Regions from separate parts of the Homo sapiens genome. Here region 2 is linked to region 1. Evidence: fine-mapped expression QTL. A gene starts in region 1. The other region holds a variant in brackets. All regions are shown on one strand. Distances are between the middles of the regions. Region 1 holds the start of SPINT2 (serine peptidase inhibitor, Kunitz type 2). Region 2 holds the start of SNORD152 (small nucleolar RNA, C/D box 152).

Evidence for each region. PIP is the estimated chance that this variant, and not a neighbour inherited with it, causes the effect. A credible set is the group of variants that fine-mapping cannot tell apart.
Region 2: its variant is the best candidate, but not a certain one, in a credible set for the expression of SPINT2 in whole blood (INTERVAL, PIP 0.68).

What each region holds. Positions count from the first base shown.
Region 1 is chr19:38,258,768-38,268,463 of GRCh38, forward strand. SPINT2 (serine peptidase inhibitor, Kunitz type 2) reads left to right here and starts at 5,806. Exons shown (of 7, transcript NM_021102.4): 1 at 5,806-6,231. The coding sequence starts at 6,126. RefSeq lists enhancers at 2,422-3,359, 3,360-4,296, 4,437-5,354 and a silencer at 5,511-5,830.
Region 2 is chr19:38,158,533-38,168,228 of GRCh38, forward strand. SIPA1L3 (signal induced proliferation associated 1 like 3) reads left to right here. Exons shown (of 22, transcript NM_015073.3): 14 at 3,721-3,839; 15 at 5,947-6,374. It overlaps SNORD152 (small nucleolar RNA, C/D box 152), which reads left to right and starts at 4,564; the gene lies at 4,564-4,617. RefSeq lists a silencer at 7,766-7,968. The variant T/A (reference allele first, on the strand shown) is at 4,424.

The DNA of each region.
Region 1 (9,696 bases):
ACTGCAACCTCTGCCTCCCAGGCTCAAGCAATTCTCCTGCCTCAGCCTCCCGAGTAGCTGGGATTACAGGGGTGTGCCACCACGCCTGGCTAATTTTTGTATTTTTAGTAGAAACGGGGTTTCACCATGTTGGCCAGGCTGGTCTTGAACTCCTGACCTCAGGTAATCCACCTGCCTAGGCCTCCCAAAGTGCTGGGATTACAGGCGTGAGCCACCGTGCCCGGCTTCAATAAAGCTGTTTTATTTCAAAATTAAAAACAGGCCAGGCGCCATGGTTCACGTCTGTAATCCCAGCACTTTGGGAGGCTGAGGTGAGTGGATTATCTGAGGTCAGGAGTTTGAGACCAGCCTGACCAACATGGTGAACCCGTCTCTACTAAAAATGCAAAAAAAATTAGCCAAGCATGGTGGTGCACCCCTGTAATCCCAGCTACTCAGGAGGCTGAGGTGGGAGAATTGCTTGAACCTGGGAGGCGGAGGCTGCAGTGAGCTGAGATCGTGCCATCACACTCCAGCCTGGGCGACAGAGAAAGACCCCATCTCTAAAAAAACAAAAATAAAAAACAACTATCCATAGCTACCCATGACCTTCAGTCTAAAGGCCAAACTCTGGTTTAGCAGTCCCATCTCTGCCAGGGACAGTCCCATTTCAGCACCAGCACCTTTCACTCGCAGTTCCCTCTGCCAGGAAGGTTCTTCCCTAGAATATCATCAGGGCTCACTCCTTCACCTCCCTCCAATGTCACTGTTCAGTGAGGTCTTCCCTGGCCACGCTATTTCACACTGCAACTCTCGTGCCCCTCATCCAGCTCTGTTTGATACATAACACTTACCACTTTCTAACATTATATATATATATATATATATATATATTTTTTTTTTTTTTTTTTTTTTTTTTTTTTTTTTTTTGAGTTGGAGTCACCTCAGGCTGGAGTATAGTATTGTGATCATGGCTCACTGCAACCTCTGCCTCCTGGGTTCAAGAGATTCTCCTGCTTCAGCCTCCTGAGTAGCTGGGACTACAGTTATACACCACTGTGTCCGCTTACTTTTTATATTTTCAGTAGAGATGGGGTTTCACCATGTTGGTCAGGCTGGTCTCGAACTCCTGACCTCAGACGATCTGCCCGTCTTGACCTCCCAAAGTGCTGGAATTACAGGCATGAGCCACCATGCCTGGCCTCTAACATTATATATAATGTACTCATTTAATGTATTGTCCATGCCAGGCGTGGTGGCTCACACCTGTAATCTCAGCACTATAGGATGCTGAGGCAGGAGGAGCAATTACATCCAGGAGTTCAAGATCAGCTTGGGCAACATAGTGAGACCCTGTCGCTACAAAAAAAAAAAAAAAAAAAAAAAGCCAGGTGCAATAGTACATGCTTGTAGTCCCAGTTACTCTGGAGGCTGAGTTGGGAGGATCACTTGAGTCCAGGAGATGGAGGACGCAGTGAACTGTGATTGCACCACTGCACTCCAGCCTGGGTGATGGAGTGAGACCCTGTCTCAAAAAGAAAAATGTCATATTTTCTGTTCTGTGCAGTGACAGAAAAAAAAAATTATTGTCTGTTTCCCAACTAGTAGCATACTAAAGGCAGGGGGACAGGACTGGTCCACTTTGGGTACAGGCAAAAAGAGGGTGCACTGTCTGTAGAGAATTTAAAAATAAAAAGCTGACCAAGGCCGGGCATGGTGGCTCATGCCTGTAATCCCAGCACTTTGGGAGGCCAAGGCAGGCAGATCACCTGAGGTCAGGAGTTCAAGACCTGCCTGGCCAACATGGTGAAACCCCATCTCCATAAAAATACAAAAATTAGCCGGGTGTGGTGGTACAAGCCTGTAATCCCAGCTACTTGGGAGACTGAGGCAGGAGAATCGCTTGAACCCGGGAGGTGGAGGTTGCGATGAGCCAAGATCGTGCCATTGCACTGCAGCCTAGGCGACAGACAGAGTGAGACTCCATTTCAAAAAAACTGACCAAAAGTTGGTCTAATTTTTATTTTACTTTGCAGTGACATTTCTAAACAGTGTCAATGATAAAATAGTCCTCCCCAGGGAAGAAACAGAAACAAAAACCTTTTGGTGGTCTGCTTTCTAAACAATTGATGCAATATAAAAAAGGGGGAAAAAAACAATTGATGCAATTACTGTCGGTTTTTTTTTTGTTTTGTTTTTGTTTCATTTTTTGAGACGGAGTTTCGCTCTTGTTGCCCAGGCTGGAGTACAATGGCACTATCTCAGCTCACTGCAACCTCCACCTCCCAGGTTCAAGCGATTCTCCTGCCTCAGCCTCCTGAGTAGCGCGGATTACAGGCATCCGCCACCACGCCCGACTAATTTTGTATTTTTAGCAGACAGGATTTCTCCATGTTGGTCAGGATGGTCTTGAACTCCCGACCTCAGGTGATCCGCTCGCCTCGGCCTCCCAAAGTGCTGAGATTACAGGTGTGAGCCAACCACGCCTGGCCTACTGTCAAGGTTTTTTTTTTGGTGTTTTTTTTTTTTTTTTTTTTTTTTTTTTTGAGACAGAGTCTCGCTCTGTCACCCAGGCTGGAGGGCAGTGGTGCAGTCTCAGCTCACTGCAACCTCCGCCTCCCGGATTCAAGCTATTCTCCTGCCTCAGCCTCCCGAGTAGCTGGGACTACAGGCGCCCGCCACCGCGCCCGGCCTCTTTTTTTTTTTTTTTTTTTTTTTTTTTGAGAACGAGTCTCGCGCCGTCGCTCAGGCTGGAGTGCAGTGGCGCAATGTCGGCTCACTGCAAACTCCACCTCCCAGGTTCAAGCGATTCTCCTGCCTCAGCCTCCCAAGTAGCTGGGACTACATGCGCCCACCACCACGCCCGGCTAGTCTTTTGTACTTTTTTTCAGTAGAGACGGGGTTTCACCGTGTTAGCCCAGATGGTCTCCATCTGCTGACCTCGTGATCCGCCCACCTCAGCCTTCTAAAATGCTGAGATTACAGGCATAAGCCACCGCACCCGGCCCTTCTTTTTTTTTTTTTTTTTTTTGAGACGAAGTCTCACACTGTCGCCCGGGCTGGTGTGCAGTGGGGCGATCTCGGCTCGCCGCAGCCTCCACCTCCCGGGTTCAAGCGATTCTCCTGCCTCAGCCTCTCCAGTGGCTGGGACTACAGGCGCGCGCCACCACGCCCGGCTAATTTTTGTATTTCTAGTAGAGACAGGGTTTCACTATGTTGGCCAGGCTGGTCTCAAATTCCTGACCTCGTGATCCGCCCACCTCGGCCTCCCAAAGTGCTGGGGATTACAGGCGTGAGCCACCTCTTTTTAATGAACTCTGAAGGATGATAAAGGCCAAGGGACAAACATTCCAAGCATCAGGAATGTTGATGCTTGGAATGTTTCTCAGGACAGATATGGAGATGCCCAGGCCTCCCAAAGTGCTGGGGATTACAGGCGTGTGAGCCCGGCCTCTTTTTTTTTTTTTTTTTTTTGAGAACGACTCTCGCGCTGTTGCTCAGGCTGGAGTACAGTGGCACAATATTGGCTCACTGCAAACCCCGCCTGCCGGGTTCAAGAGATTCTCCTGCCTCAGCCTCCCGAGTAGCTGGGACTACATGCTCCCGCCACCACGCCCGGCTAATCTTTTTGATTTTTTCACCGTGTTAGCCAAGATGGTCTTGATCTGCTGACCTCGTGATCCACCCGCCTTGGCCTCCCAAAGTGCTGGGATTACAGGCATGAGCCACTGCGCTCAGCCCTCCTTTTGAGTTTTTGTGTTTAAAGTTCAAAACTGGACAGATGCAGTGGCTCACGCCTGTAATCCCAGCACTTTGGGAGGTCAAGGTGGGCGGATCGTGAGGTCAGAAGTTCGAGACCAGCCTGGCCAACATGGTGAAACTCCATCTCTACAAAAAATACAAAAATTAGCTGGGCGTGGTGGCGGGTGGTGCCTGTAATCCCAGCTACTCAGGAGGCTGAGGCAGGAGAATTGCTTGAATCCAGGAGGTGGAGGTTGCAGTGAGCTGAGATCACAGCATTGCACTCCAGCCTGGGCAACAGGTGAAACTCTGTCTCAAAATAAAATAAAATAAAGAAAGAAGAGGCCTATACCTTCTTCCAAGCCTTGACGGCTCAGCACATACTTCTCTGTTTTCATGCTCAAGCCTAGGTTTAGTAGGCCTGAGTGGCAGTGGGAGATTCAAGTGCTGGGGGAGACCTTTGGCCTCACATTCAGATTCCACCTTGAGTCCCATGATCTCATTGCAAGGTTAGACTTCCATTGTTTAAGGTAAATACCATTTTGATAACTCAGTTACGGCTTTTCATGTATTATTATGCTAGGAGGGAGGCTGAAGAGTGGGAGTGGCCCTGGCTCCTGAACACACTATTCTCTTTCCTGCCTGAAGGCCTCCGCATGTGCCATTCCTGATTCTTGGAATGTTTGTCCCTTGGCCTTTATCATCCTTCAGAGTTCATTATCAAAGCCACCCCTCACAAAGCCCTTCCTCCGCCACCCCATTCAAAAGATCTCTTGTTATTTTCCATCCCAGCCCCTGATTCCTTTTCTGTATAGCACTGTCAAAGTGTTTTCAGGCCAGGTGTGGTGGTTCACGCCTGTAATACAACACTTTTGGAAGGATGAGACAGGAGGATCCCTTGAAGCCAGGAGTTTGAGACCAGCCTGGGCAACATAGCAAGTCCCCTGTCTCCACAAAAAATTTAAAAATTAGCTGGATGTGGTGGCTCACATCTGTAGTCCCAGCTACTTGGGAGGCTGAGGTGGGAGGATCCCTTGAGCCCAGGAGGTCAAGGCTGCAGTGAGCCAAGATCACTCCATTGCACTCCAGCCTGGGCAACAAGAGCAAAACTTCCATCTCAAAAAAAAAAAAAAAAAGAAATAATCTAAAAGTGTTTTCAATAATAATGCATTTATGTTGATTACCTTGTTGGCTATCCTCTACTCGTGTGCCTGCCCCACTCCATTCCCCTTTCTAGAGTCTGTTCACGTAACTCCTCTTCCAGGAAGCCCTCTTTGACTCCCAGGCTTGGTCAGGTGTCTTCTCTGGGTTTCCCCAGGGGCTTCCTTCCTCTCAATTCTGATGCTGCCTGTGCTAAGTATTTGTCTCCATATCTGTCCTGAGAACCTTGGAGCCAGGGCTCGGGGCTGTTTTTGCATGGGCCTATCACCTCCTCCAGGAAGCCCTCCTTGGCCCTCTCTCAGGCTGGATGGGAAAGCTGTCTGGGCTCCCATCATGCCCTGGTTTTCTAGCGACCCAGCCTCTGATCCCTAAGCTTGGCCTTCCCCATCACAGCTTTCATCACTTTGTGCTAAGCTTCCGCTATCACTACTCTGGGCCGTTCCTGTTTGGTGACTCAGGGACCAGTCTGGCATGGCCACCGCTGGGTCCCCAGCATTAAGCCCTGGAGCATGAGCCCAGTGAACTTTGAAATTCAGGAAGGAATTCACAGGAAAGCTGCGGCGAGGCGGGCAGAAAACCACAGGCTTCCAAGAAACGCGTGTCTGCCGCCCCCTCCTCCCACCCTGAGGCCAGTCCTAGAGCGAAGGCCCTCCTCCGACGTCGTCACCAAGCCCAAGGGAAGGGTGGCAGGTGCTCAGCGGGCAGACGCCCCGCCCCGCCCCGCCAGGTTCTGTTGGGGGCGAGGCCCGCGCAAGCCCCGCCTCTTCCCCGGCACCAGGGGCGGGCCCAGGTGCGCCCAGGGCCGGGGAGCGGCCGCGCAGGTGCCTGCCCTTTGCGCCTGCGCCCAGCTCGCCCTGCCTAGCCAGGTGCGCCCCGCCCCCTGCCTGCCCGGCCACCTTCGGGAGCCGCTTCCAATAGGCGTTCGCCATTGGCTCTGGCGACCTCCGCGCGTTGGGAGGTGTAGCGCGGCTCTGAACGCGCTGAGGGCCGTTGAGTGTCGCAGGCGGCGAGGGCGCGAGTGAGGAGCAGACCCAGGCATCGCGCGCCGAGAAGGCCGGGCGTCCCCACACTGAAGGTCCGGAAAGGCGACTTCCGGGGGCTTTGGCACCTGGCGGACCCTCCCGGAGCGTCGGCACCTGAACGCGAGGCGCTCCATTGCGCGTGCGCGTTGAGGGGCTTCCCGCACCTGATCGCGAGACCCCAACGGCTGGTGGCGTCGCCTGCGCGTCTCGGCTGAGCTGGCCATGGCGCAGCTGTGCGGGCTGAGGCGGAGCCGGGCGTTTCTCGCCCTGCTGGGATCGCTGCTCCTCTCTGGGGTCCTGGCGGCCGACCGAGAACGCAGCATCCACGGTGAGGGCCGGGCGGGTAGGCTGGAGGCGGGGCGCAGGGGGCAGAGGCTCGGGGGTCAACGGGGGTCTGAGCAGGGAGAACTGGCGGGGGAGGAAACTGGGGGCTACTTGATGGCGTTCAGCGGGTGTGGTGGAACCAGCCCTGGAGGATTGAGCCTTGAAATGAGGTTTGGGAGCCTTCGACAGCGAAGACGGGCGGAGGAGCGAGGGTTAGGAGAGTTTCCTTCGGGTGGAGGAAGAGTCAAGGGGTATTGACCAAGAAGGCGTGGCACTGCCCCTTCCTGTGGCAAGAACGGGGTGAGGAGCCGAATTGAAGACCAGCCTTCTCCTGGCGGTGGAAAGTTCCATGGCCAAAGCTCAGGGAGAGGCCAGGCCTGTGAGATGGTGGGGGTTGGGTTGGGTGACCTGGTGGCCGTTTTAGACTCGGAAGAAGCCCATCTCACCCCTGCCTCTTTGGAGATTGGACAAGAGCCTCCCCTGAAGTTTTTGTAGTTGAGTTGCAGTAAAGTAGGTGCCCGAGAAGGAGGGAGCAAGAAAGGAAACAAGCTTTGGGGAAGAGGAAGCTCTGCTAAGGCTCGAGAGAGTATTGGCGTTGAGCAGCTGGTGTTGGGGTCTTTGGATTGGCCCTTAGAAGTCGGTGGTGAATAAGGTGATTTAAACTTCTACACTCTTAAGGAAGTGTGGTCTGAAAGGTCTCTTTGAACAAGTGTTGTTATAACCTTAACTGCTTCAGACAAGCACCAGCGTGTTTTGAAAAGAGCTCTCTTGAAAGCAAGAATTCATTGATTCAGCAAAACTTACTGAGGCCCTGCTACGTGTCAGGCACTGGCGCTGGTTATAACAGTTAACTCAGACTAGCTGGGTTCCTGCATTCACAGAGCTAATATTCCAGTGGGAGAGGCAGAGCTAGTGAAGGTTTAAAAAGCACTTGCCATGAGATTAAGTTACTGAGAATTAAATGAACCAGGTGAAGTACACCAACAGGGTGACGTAAGATGTTGGGGGCGGCTTTAGCTCAGGTGGTCGGGGGACGTCTCCGTGAGGAGGGTGACATCTGAGCTCTAACATGAAGAATGAGGCAGTAGCCACACGGAGACCTGGGGGACCAGTGTCCAGTTGCAGGCAATAGAGTACAAAGGCCTTGAAGCTGGAACAAGCTTGGTTGGGTTCAGGGAAAAGACAGAGCCAGCCTGGCTGGAGCAGGCGTGAAGGAGGGGAGGACTGGAGGAGGATGGGAGGTGGGAGAGGTTGGCTGCAGCCAGATGGCCTAGGGCTTTATAGACAGGTGCTGGTGCTTGAACCCGGGAGGCGGATGTTGCAGTGAGCCAAGATCGCGCCACTGCATTCCAGCTTGGGCAACAAGAGTGAAACTCCCATCTCAAAAAAAAAAAAAGAAGGCCGGGTGATGTGGCTCATGCCTGTAATCCTAGAACTTTGGGAGGCCAAGGCGGGCAGATCACTGGAGGCCAGGAGTTCAACACCACCCTAGGCAACATGATGAAACCCCGTCTCTACCAAAAATACAAAAATTAGCTGGGCATGGTGGTGCACACCTGTAGTCCCGGCTACTCGGGAGGCTGAGGCAGGAGAATCGCTTGAAGCCCAGAGGCGGAGGCTGTAGTGAGCTGAGATCAAGCCACTGCACAGCAGCCTGGGCGACACAGCAAGACTCAGTCTCAAAAAAAAAAAAAAGAGCAGGCTAGGTGTGTACCAAGTCATCACCTGTGGTAACTTCTGGGGACTGGTTAATTTCTCTGTGCCCTAGGCAGGAGAAAAAAGTGAATTGGTGGGGAGAGGCTCAGCTGTAGGTGACTGGGAGTCAGGAATGCAGACGTTGATCATTCTTGCAATTCGAACCAGAATTTGGCAGCTCTGCTGGACTTTTTCAGTTTAAGTAATTACGTTAGGATGTACCTCCCAGTTACCTGGCCTCTTGCTACCTCTGGTGCTTACTCTGAGCTGGGACATGGCCTCTTGCTACCTCTGGTGCTTACTCTGAGCTGGGATGTGCCATTTAACCTTTGAAACAGCCGGGTGCGGTGGTGAAGTTACTTGCCTTGCCCGAGGTCACTCGGTAGTAGTAATTGACAAAGCCAGGTCTCACTGCAGAGGCCTTCTCTGTTCAGAGTGGCCTACCTGACTGCTGCTGCCGACTGGACCTACTGACCTTTCAGAAGTACTAGTGTCTGACTGGGTGAACTCATGCCCTCACTCATCGTAAGTTCTGTTTGTTTGAAAGCTTGAACAGCTTAATCGGAGGCAGAAGGCAGTTTTGACTTTTTTTTCCTCGCTCCTTCCTGATTGCTTCTGTTTTCTCCGGAAGCGAGTCATCCACTGGGAGTGTGGTGTTGCTGAAGCTCCATGCAGTGGCTCAGGTGCTGCTGGATGAGTGTGGTGGTGAGGGAGGAGTGAACAGAGAATGTGTGAGGGAGGGAGGATGGGGGTTGGTCAAGGAATTTATTCTGTATGAAAACATGAGGGGGCGGAGGGCCGAGGTAGATGGTAGGGCCAGCAGATTGTTGGAGTTGAGGTTCTGAAGGGAATGAACCAGACAGATAGGATGCAGTGGGTAGTGAGTGAGATGCATGAGAGGGAGGTTCTGAAGAGGTGGCAGTTACTGAGACAGGTCTAGGTGTGACCCTGAGAGGAAGCGGGGGGGCGAGGGTGGGAGGAGATCAGGTGGAGGTCTTGGGACCTAGAGGTCAGAGGACCATCTACCTGGATATAGAAATCTCCAAGAATGATCATAAGAGCAGCGGGAGAGGTGGCAGGCCCGGAGCTAAAGTTGGGAAGGAAGAAGTAGTTGTCTGGGTTGGCAGATAACGTGCCAGGCGGGGTAGTGAATGATTTACTCTAATAATGGAAGTCTCCCAGCTGGGGATTTTGGGGAGGGTGGAGGGAGAACAGTCCAGAAGCAGCTCCCAGGAGCAAGGAGACCTCCCCACTTGGAAGGGCCCCAGGAGGTGTGCCCTCAGGGGAGATTCCAATTAGGTAAGAGGGTGGCAACAATGTTCAGAGGAGATTGAGGACATGGAAGATTTGCTCAAGACCAGTCCTGAGTACCAGAGGGCCCAGGAGTTGGGGGAGGGGAGATGGGGACAAAGCAGGCCCCACCGTGTGAGAGTGAGGGTTAACTCAGGGGTCGGGGCTTCTTGTGAGAAGCATCATGTGGTCTATGATTGATGTGTTGGTGACGCTCTGAGTAGTGAGGGCAGGTGGGAAGGGACAGGTGGACGGGCCGGACAAAGAGTGTCCTGACTCCAACCTCTGCAGACAGAGGTGGGGGGAAAGCTGAGCTTATGCCAGGTGAGAAAGCTCCCCTATCTAGCGTTAGGGACAGTTACCGTCTGGAGTGGAAAGCACGCAGAGATTATAAACTGTCCACTCCCAGGAAGCTTCACACAGCCTTTATGTGACTTGTACTTTTTCCAGAATTGGGATTTTTTAAACGTAAAAATGTAGTTTT
Region 2 (9,696 bases), 100 kb before region 1:
CTGTGCAGAGGAGGGGCAGGATCTGACTCGGGTGTTCCCAGGAGCCCCTGGCTACAGATTACTGTCAGGTGGGGTGGGAGCAGGACCAGGTGGGGACAGAGGTAGGCGGAGATGCACGATTCTGGATATAGTATTTTAAAGGCAGCGTTAACCAAATTTCTTGATGATGCCTAGTTGTGGGCATGAGAGAAGTCAAGGATGCCACAGGGGGTTTGGCCACAGCAGCTGAAAGGAGAAGCCATGAACTGAGCAGGAAAACTGTGGGAGATGCAGGTTTGGGGGAAGGTACAGCCCTTGGCTTGGCCTTGGCCATGTTCAGTGAGAGGTGCCTGATAGATACCCAAGTGGAGGTGCTGCAGGGCAGCCGAGTTCAAGTGTCAAGTCAGGGGCAGAGGTCAGCCCAGAGGTAGAGCACTGGAGTTGTCCGTTGTCTGTGGTTTTTGAGGCCGGATGTGACTGCCATGGGCTTCGCTCTGTAGAAATGTGGTCTCCCAGAGTGACTGCCCACCTCCCGGGGAGCCAGCACCTTCTGGGTGTATAAAAATGCCCCAAAGAGGAAAACCATCAATGGAGGCAGAGCAGGTGGACAAAGAGGCCAGCCTCCCCACTTTCTCGCATCCATGGTTCCCCAGTGAAAGCCACACACGCGGTGACACCCTCAACTGAGACTAGACCACATCCAGCCAGGCCATTCTCTGCAGTGGCCCTGAGTGCCCTGCCTGGTCACCCGGGCCACCTTCCCCAGCAGGAACATGGGCCCAAGAGTACCCTGGGCTTGCACCGGAGGTGGCAGTGTGATTGCAAGCTCGGGGTCCCACAGGCCTGGTGGGCAGTTCTGAGTTGGGCGTATGCTTGGTGTGTGGCCTCAGCAGTGACCTCCTCCCCCTCAGCCTCAGGTCCCACTCCTGTAGTGGACATCCTAGGTGTCTCTCCTTCCAGGGCAGTTTGTGGGGGGTCCAGTGAGATAATGCCGGCCAAGCCCACGGCCCATCATTAGGAGAACAAGAGCTCCTGCCCATCGGGCACTCACTCTCCACCACTGCCAGCATTGCCGTTGTTGGTGAAGCCAAGGGAGGAGGCAGGGCTTGACAGCACAGGTGCTAAACTAGGCCAATCCGAGCCACACGTCCTGCCTGGCCCTTTCCCACTGTGCGACCTTGGACCAGCTGCTTAACCTCTCCGAGTCTTGTTCCACATCTATCGGAGATGCTCCTGATACCCACTTCACAGTGGTACTGGGAGGACGCAGCAGGGTAATGTATGCAGAGTGCTTACCATAGCGCCTGACACAGAACACACGCTTAATGGGAATTATCATTATGTTAATGATCTTGAATACCATAGTGATCAAAAGTCAGCTTTGGGGTTAAATCACCGGCGTTCAGCTCCTCAGTTAGTGCATTTGTAATTTCCATAGATAATATCTAAATGCCCTCCACTGGGGTTGGTCACTTTTTATGTATGTCTTTATTTATTTTATTTTTTATTTATTTTTTTGAGACGGAGTATTGCTCTGTTGCCCAGGATGGAGTGTAATGGCGCGATCTCGGCTCACTGCAGCCTCCACCTCCCAGGTTCAAGCAATTCTCCTACCTCAGCCTCCCGAGTAGCTGGGACTACAGGCATGTGCCATCACACCCAGCTAATTTTTTTGTATTTTTAGGAGAGACAGGGTTTCACCATGTTGGTCAGGCTGGTCCTGAACTCCTGACCTCAAATGATCCCCCCATCTTGGCCTCCCAAAGTGCTGGGATTACAGGCATGAGCCACCGCACCTGGCCAATTTTTTTTTAAGGTCAGCAAGATACTTGGTCCAGGCATACTGACTAGGCTGGAGAGGTTAAACCAGTTGACATCCAGAGCAGCTGCTACTCTTTTTTTTTTTTTTGAGACGGAGTCTCGCTTAGTCTCCAGGCTGGAGTGCAGGGGTGCGATCTCGGCTCACTGCAGCCTCCTCCTCCCAGGTCCAAGCGATTCTTCTGCCTCAGCCTCCCAAGTAGCTGGGACTACAGGCGTGCACCACCACACCCAGCTATTTTTTGTATTTTTTTTAGTAGAGACGGGGTTTCACCATGTTGGACAGGATGGTCTCAACTCTTGACCTCGTGCTCTGCCCGCCTCGGCCTCCCAAAGTGCTGGGATTACAGGCGTGAGCCACCGCACCAGGCCTGACATCCACAGCAGCCACTACTCTTAAACCCGCTTCACCTTTGGACCAGCAATTCCACCAGTAGCACTCTCTGTCCCACACACAATCCCACGCTTGCTCAAAGTCGCATGTAGAGGGAAGGCCACTGTAGAGGGAAGACTGTTCAAGATAACCTAAATATCCATCAGTAGGAAACTGGCAGGTCATTGATGTACATTCACTTAGTGCAATACTATTAGGGTAACATCACATTCAATTATGTGAAGACCTATGGTGAAGATATAAAGAGAAAAGCAAGTATAGACATATTACAAAGTGAAAAATTAAGTTGTAGGACAGTGTTTATTATTATTCCATTTTTGTTTTTTAAAAAAGTTGTGGGCCGGGCACGGTGGCTCACATCTGTAATCCCAGCACTTTGGGAGGCTGAGATGGGTGGATCACGAGGTCAGGAGTTCGAGACCAGCCTGGCCAAGATGGTGAAACCCCGTCTCTACTAAAAATACAAAAATTAGCCGGGCGTGGTGGCCAGTGCCTGTAATCCCAGCTACTCAGGAGGCTGAGGCAGGAGAATCACTTGACCTGGGAGGCAGAGGTTGCAGTGAGCTGAGATCACACCACTGCGCTCTAGCCTGGGTGACAGAGCAAGACTCCGTCTCAAAAAAAAAAAAAAAAAAAAACTATGTACATACAACCAACAAAGGATTGCTACCTTGCATATGTAAAGAACTCTACTAACCAATAAGATAAAAGATAGTTTGGGCCGGGTGCGGTAGCTCACACCTGTAATCCCAGCACTTTGGGAGGCCGAGGCAGGTGGATCACGAGGTCAGGAGTTCGAGACCAGCCTGGCCAATATGGTGAAACCCTGTCTCCACTAAAAATACAAAACAATTAGCTGGGCATGGTGGTGCCACACCTGTAATCCCAGCTGCTTGAGAGGCTGAGACAGGAGAATCACTTGAACCCTGGGCAGTGGAGGGTGCAGTGAGCTGAGATCATACCACTGCACTCCAGCCTGAGCGACAGAGCGAGACCCCATCTCAAAAAAGACAGTCAAGCTCATAGATAAATGGGTAAAGGAGGCTAGGCATGGTGGCTCACGCCTATCATCCCAGCACTTTGGGAAGCTGAGGCAGGAGGATCACTTGAGGCCAGGAGTTCAAGACCACCCTGGATGCTGTAGCAAGACCTCAAAAAAAAAAAAAAAATTAGCCAAGCATGGTGATGCACACCTGTAGTCCTAGCTACTTGGGAGGCTGAGGCGGGAGGATGGCTTCAACCCAGGAGTTCAAGGTTACAGTGAGCTATGATCATTCCATTGCACTTTAGCCTGGGTGACAGGGAGAGAGGGAAATGGGATATTGCACGGCTTCAGTGAGGCCCTCAGAACGGTGTCTGGCACATAGTATGTGCTGAGATGTATTCTCTGTTACTGAGTGTTGCACTCCAAGGTGTAAATTGATGGGGTCATGCCGTGGGTGAGCAGACAGTCTGGCAAAGGGTCCAGATTCTTCAGGCCCTGGCCTGAGTCACTCCTAACCACTGGTGTGTCTCCTGTTTTCCTACAGAGCCTTTGTGGCATGTGCCTGCCCAGGCCAGGCTCTCAGCCATAGCCGGAAGCAGCGGGAACAAGCACCCGTCCAGGCAGGATGCAGCAGGCAAAGATTCCCCCAACAGGCATTCCAAAGTGAGTCTGGGCCCCACCCTGCCCTACCGGGGGAGCCAGGCCTGCCTGGGTGTGGCCTCTGAGCTTCACACTTGAGCACATCCTCAACCTCTGCCACCTTCCACTCAGCAGAGGGGTTGAATACTTGGTCTGAGTTGGAACCAACCAGGTTCACATTCTGGCTCCAGCCCTCATCAGCCAGGTCATCTAGGGCAAATCCCTTTACCTCCTCGAGCCGCAGTTTCCTCATTGTTCCATCAGTCATGGTAAATCAGCTGCTGTAACAGACAGCCCCGAATCTCAGTGACTTCATACAGTGGAAGTGGATTTCCCTCTCCTGTAACAGCGCAGTGCAGGTATTCAGTGAGCATCTACCCGCCATTCACGTGGTGATTCAGAGCCCAGGCTCCCTCCCTCTTGTGGCTCTGCTGTCCCTCAGAGGTTCCAAGCCCTCTGCTGGGTCCCTGCGTCTTTCCAGCAGTGGAGGTGAGTGGGAGAAAAGATCACATGGGAGGTGTTTTTTAGCCCAGGCCTGGAAATGGCATGAATCGCTTCCATTCCATCACGTGGCCACACCTAGCTGCAAGGGAGGCTGGGAAATGTAG[T/A]CTTGCATGGCCCAGGAAGGCTGGGGATGTAGTCCTGTGTGTCCAGGAGGAGGAGATGGTTTGCAGGGGCTCTTGGCAATCTCTTTGTATCCATTCGTTCAGTGGGTGTTTGACAAGCGCTTACAACACTCCAGGCATTGGGACCATGATGATGAAGAGGACAGACCAGCCCTGTCCTCAGGAAGCTGACTTCCCATTTGGGGCAGCAAGCAGTAAGCAGATAAACAGATCTGTTGTATAAGAAAAAGTGCGGGCTGGGCGCGGTGGCTCACGCCTATAATCCCAGTGCTTTAGGAGGCCAAGGCGGACGGATCACCTGCAGTCAGGAGTTCGAGACCAGCCTGGGCAACCTAGTAAAACCCCGTCTCTACTAAAAATACAAAAATTAGCCAGGCGTGGTGGCAGGAACCTATAATCCCAGCTCCTTGGGAGGCTGAGGCACAAGAATTGCTTGAACCCAGGAGGCAGAGGCTGCAGTAAGCCAAGATTGCACCACTGCACTCCAGCCTGAGCGACAGAGTGAGACTCTATCTCAAAAAAAAAAAAAAAAAAAAAACAGTCCAGGGGAGAGAGTGACAAGCACTGCAGCTCAAGGATGATGTGGTCAGAGAGGGCCTTTGAGGGGGTGACCTTTGAGCGGAAACCTTGAGTGAAGGAAGGGGGAGGCCCACGAAGATCTCTCAGGGAAGAGTATTGCAGGCAGAGGGAGCAGCAGGCGCAGAGGCCCTGACGGGGAGTGCCCAGTATGTTCCGAGAATAGCAAGGGGGCCACCATGGCCACAGCAACGTGATCGGGAGGGAGGGGAGATGAAGTTGGAGACCGGGACCCAAGCATCAAAGCCCCATGGGCCATGCTGGGAACTCTCACTTGTGCCTGGAGTAAGATGGAGCCACAGGTGGGGGTCATCATCTAACTCAGGTGTTCTCAGCCTTCTGCTGGCTGCGTGTGGGGAATAAACAGGGGGATGAGGGTGCAGAGAGACCAGGGAGGAGGCTGCTGCACTGGCCCCAGGGGGAGGACAGGACAGGCATGGACAGGACCACGCGGAGCCGTGGAGCAGGAAGTGACAGGTCCCGGATCTGTGTTGAGGACGCGGGCAGCAGGGTTTGCTAGTGGGCTGGACATGAGTGAGAGCAAAAGCGGGGTCAAGGTGAGTCCACGGCTCTTGGCAGGGGCAGCTGAAAGCATGGCCGGCGTCATTGAGATGAGGAAGACGCTGCCGAACTCAGTCTTAGATTCGCTGAGTCTGAGATGTGGGAAGCATGTTCTGTGCCTGATGTCATTTGTTCCTCTGAGCAGCCCCATGAGGCAGGCTTACTATCACCCTCCATTTTACAGATGTGGAAACTGAGGCTGAGGGAAGGTAAATCACTTGCCCAAGGTAACACGGCCAGTAGATGAGAAGCCAGGATTTGAAGCTGTCTGGTCCCAGGGTTCAGGCCCAGGCAGAGGGAGGACCCGGCAAGGGAAGATGCGCCCCTGCCCTGGAGTCTGGGAATGACACGCTTCTCTTGCCTCTCAGGGAGAACCTCAATACTCAAGTCATTCCAGCAGCAACACCCTCTCCAGCAACGCATCCAGCAGCCACAGCGACGACCGCTGGTTCGACCCCCTGGACCCCCTGGAGCCAGAGCAAGACCCCCTCTCCAAGGGTGGCTCTAGTGACAGCGGCATCGACACCACCCTCTACACCTCCAGCCCTAGCTGCATGTCCCTGGCCAAGGCTCCACGGCCCGCCAAGCCACACAAGCCCCCTGGAAGTATGGGCCTTTGTGGCGGGGGTCGCGAGGCCGCTGGGAGGTCCCACCACGCAGACAGGCGGCGGGAGGTCTCCCCTGCCCCCGCAGTTGCCGGCCAAAGCAAGGGCTACCGACCGAAGCTGTACTCCTCCGGCTCCAGCACCCCCACGGGACTGGCGGGGGGCAGCCGAGACCCACCGAGGCAGCCCAGGTAAGCTGTTGCACCTAGTCTGGGTTCTAACCACCTTCCACTTCGCCAGTTCTACTTTTACGGTCCTGATGGTGGGGTTCTCCTCCCCAGAAACACACTCACGGATGAATGCGCCTAGTCATTGGTTTGCTGACAGAATTGAGGAGCTCGTGGATCTCTGCCTTATTGCCCATCCATCAGCATTCAGGGACCCCAGGTGGAGGGAAAGAAACCCCTGGCCTTCTGTCTCTGTTTTCATCTGTCTCTGGTTCTCTCTGACCCTCTGTCTCTTTTTTCTTTGCTCTCTGCTGATACCAAAAGTTTTTATGCTTTCTAAAGGGTCACAGACTGTATCTGATAGAGTGTATTTGGCTGGAGGCAATAGGAAACCTGACCCTCTGTGGCTTAAACAAATAGAGGTGTAACAAACAGTCCCCTAACATGAAGTCCAGAGAAGGCAGAGCCAGGCTAGTGCTGTGGCTTGTGGAGAGCCTCAAGGATTGGCACTCTGTGTCTCCCTGCTCGGCATCTTTACCATGCTGGCTCATGTCTCACTTGCCTTGAGATGGAGCTGTGCTGCCTGGTGAGTGGCAGTTGGGGACAGAGAAGAGGGGAAAGTTGGAAGCCTCTGAGCACCTTTCCCTTCCTATGGAGAAAGCAAACACTTTCCCAGAACCCCTTTCAGCAGCTGGCATCACGGGGCCATCCCAGCTACAAGGAGGTCTGGAAAGTTGTAGTTTGGTCTTCCAGGCTCTACCGTATACGGCGATGGTCCCCACAGAAGCCCTCAAAGGCTTGTTCAGCCCAGCTGCTGGCCCCCACCCAGAGTTTCTGATTCAATAGGTCGGAGCGGGAGACCTGAGAACGTGCATTGGTGTTTTTTTGTTTGTTTTTTAGACGGAGTTTCGTTCTATTCACCAGGCCGGAGTGCAGTGGTGCGGTCTCAGGCTCACTGCACCCTCTACCTCCCAGGTTCAAGTGATTCTCCTGCCTCGGCCTCCCGAGTAGCTGAGATTACAGGTGCCCACCACCATGCCCAACTAATTTTTGTATTTTTAGTAGAGACAGGGTTTCACCATGTCGGCCAGGCTGGTCTCAAACTCCTGACCTAAAGGGATCCTCCCACCTCAGCCTCCCAAATTGCTGGGATCACAGGTGTGAGCCACCATGCCCGGCTGAGAATATGCATTAAGTTCTCAGTAAATGCTGATGCTGCTGGTCCCAGGACCACACTTTGAGAGCCACTGGTAGAGAGGCAGACGGGAGTAAGAGAGAAAGAGTAGGCATTGGCTGGAAACGGTGGCTCATACCTGTAATCCCAGCACTTTGGGAGGCCAAGGCGGGTGGATCATGAGGTCAGGAGATCCAGACTGTCCTGGCCAACATGGTGAAACCCCGTCTCTACTTAAATACAAAAAAAAATTAGCCAGGCATGGTAGTGGGCGCCTGTAGTCCCAGCTACTTGGGAGGCTGAGGCAGGAGAATCGCTTGAACCCAGGAGGCAGAGGTTGCAGTGAGCCGAGATCGTGCCACTGCACTCCACCCAGGCGACAGAGCAAGACTCTGTCTCAAAAAAAAAAAAAAGAAAAGAAAAGAAAAGCAGGAATTGGCGAGCCAGCAGCCTAGAGTCCCGACCACACACACTGACGTTCGGATGGAGGCAATGAGCCACCTTCCAGAAAAGGGCACAGAGATGGAAAGAGTATTCTACACAGACACAGAGCTCAGCCTCATCCTTGGACCCCCTTAGGGTTCTGTGACCCCAGCAGGGCTTGCTGTGCTGTAGTGTCCAGTGCCAGCCCCTGAGTCCACAGCCCCACATCCCTTCCTGACCATGCCTGGGGTGGGCTAGCCTGAGTCCCCGATAGCCATCAGGGCTCAGAACCTGGTTGGCGCAGGGATCTTCCTCTCCTGTGGCGCCCTAAAGCCTTTTCCAGTCCTCAAACCCCAGCCTCTCTCCACACAGGACACCCACACTCAGGCAGCCAACTCAGACTTCTGACCACAGTCCACAGTAGAATTGTGTCCATCTATACAGAAATATCTATGTTAAAAAAAAAAAAAGGTGGCTTTGAGCAGTGGCTCACGCCTGTAATCCCAGCACTTTGGGAGGCCAAGGCAAGCGGATCACAAGGTCAAGAGCTCGAGACCGTCCTGGCCAACATGGTGAAACCCCATCTCTACTGAAAATACAAAAATTAGCTGGGCGTGGTGGTGGGCACCTGTAGTCCCAGATACTCGGGAGGCTGAGGCAGGAGAATCGCTTGAATCTGGGAGGCAGAGGTTGCAGTGAGCCAAGATCATGCCACTGCACTCCAGCCTGGCAACAGAGCGAGATTCCATCTCAAAAAAAAAAAAAAAAAGGTGAAGCAGTGGTTTCCAAAATAATTCTTAACCTGTGTGTGATATACTTTGATCCAGTCTACTCTATTTAAAAACTTTTAATGCTGATCAATCCCCACTCAGATGATTTCATGGCTTACAGTGTTCTCTGACAGATATTTGAAAACCACTGTGTTTGAGTGATTGTAGTGTCAGCACTTCCCCGGGCACACTGTGATCCAAGGGTCTCCTTGAGTCAAAGAGCCAGGAGAAGGGCTGAAGGAGGAAAGAGGAGACAGACAGAGAGAGACACTGTCTGAGTGTTTTAGACCTCTCAGTTCATCTCCCTAGACAAGTGGCTGTTTGTTTTTTAGAAACAGGGTCCTGCTCTATTGCCCAGGCTGGGGTGCAGTAGTACGACCATAGCTCACGATAGCCTCGAACTCCTCAGCTCAAGTGTTCCTCCCACCTCAGCCCCCTAAGTAGCTGAGACTACAGGTGTGTGCCCCCATGCCCAGCTAATTTTTTAAGTTTGTTAGTAGAGAAGGGGTCTCACTGTGTTGCCAAGGTTGGTCTCGAACTCCTGGGCTCAAGCGATGCTCCCATCTCGGCCTCTCAAAATGCTGGGATTACAGGCATGAGCTACCACACCTGGTGACGAGTACCTCTTAATCTTTTGAACATGTGGACTCTTTTGAATGGCTCTTTCATTCATTTATTCATTCACTCCATTCATAAGTATTTCTTAGGGATTTGCTCGGTCCCAGACACTGTGCTGGGAGCTGAGAGAAATCAGGAGCACATTTGGATGAGGCCTCCCCACCGCCCACTGTCAAATGAGGGAAGCAGATGAGAATCAGATAATCACTGAGACAAATGAATACGTGTGCGCTCCCAGGCCGGGCACGGTGGCTCACGCCTATAAACCCAGCACTTTGGGAGGCCGAGGTGGGCGGATCACCTGAGGTCAGGAGTTCGAGACCAGCCTGGCCCACATGATGAAACTCCGTCTCTACTAAAA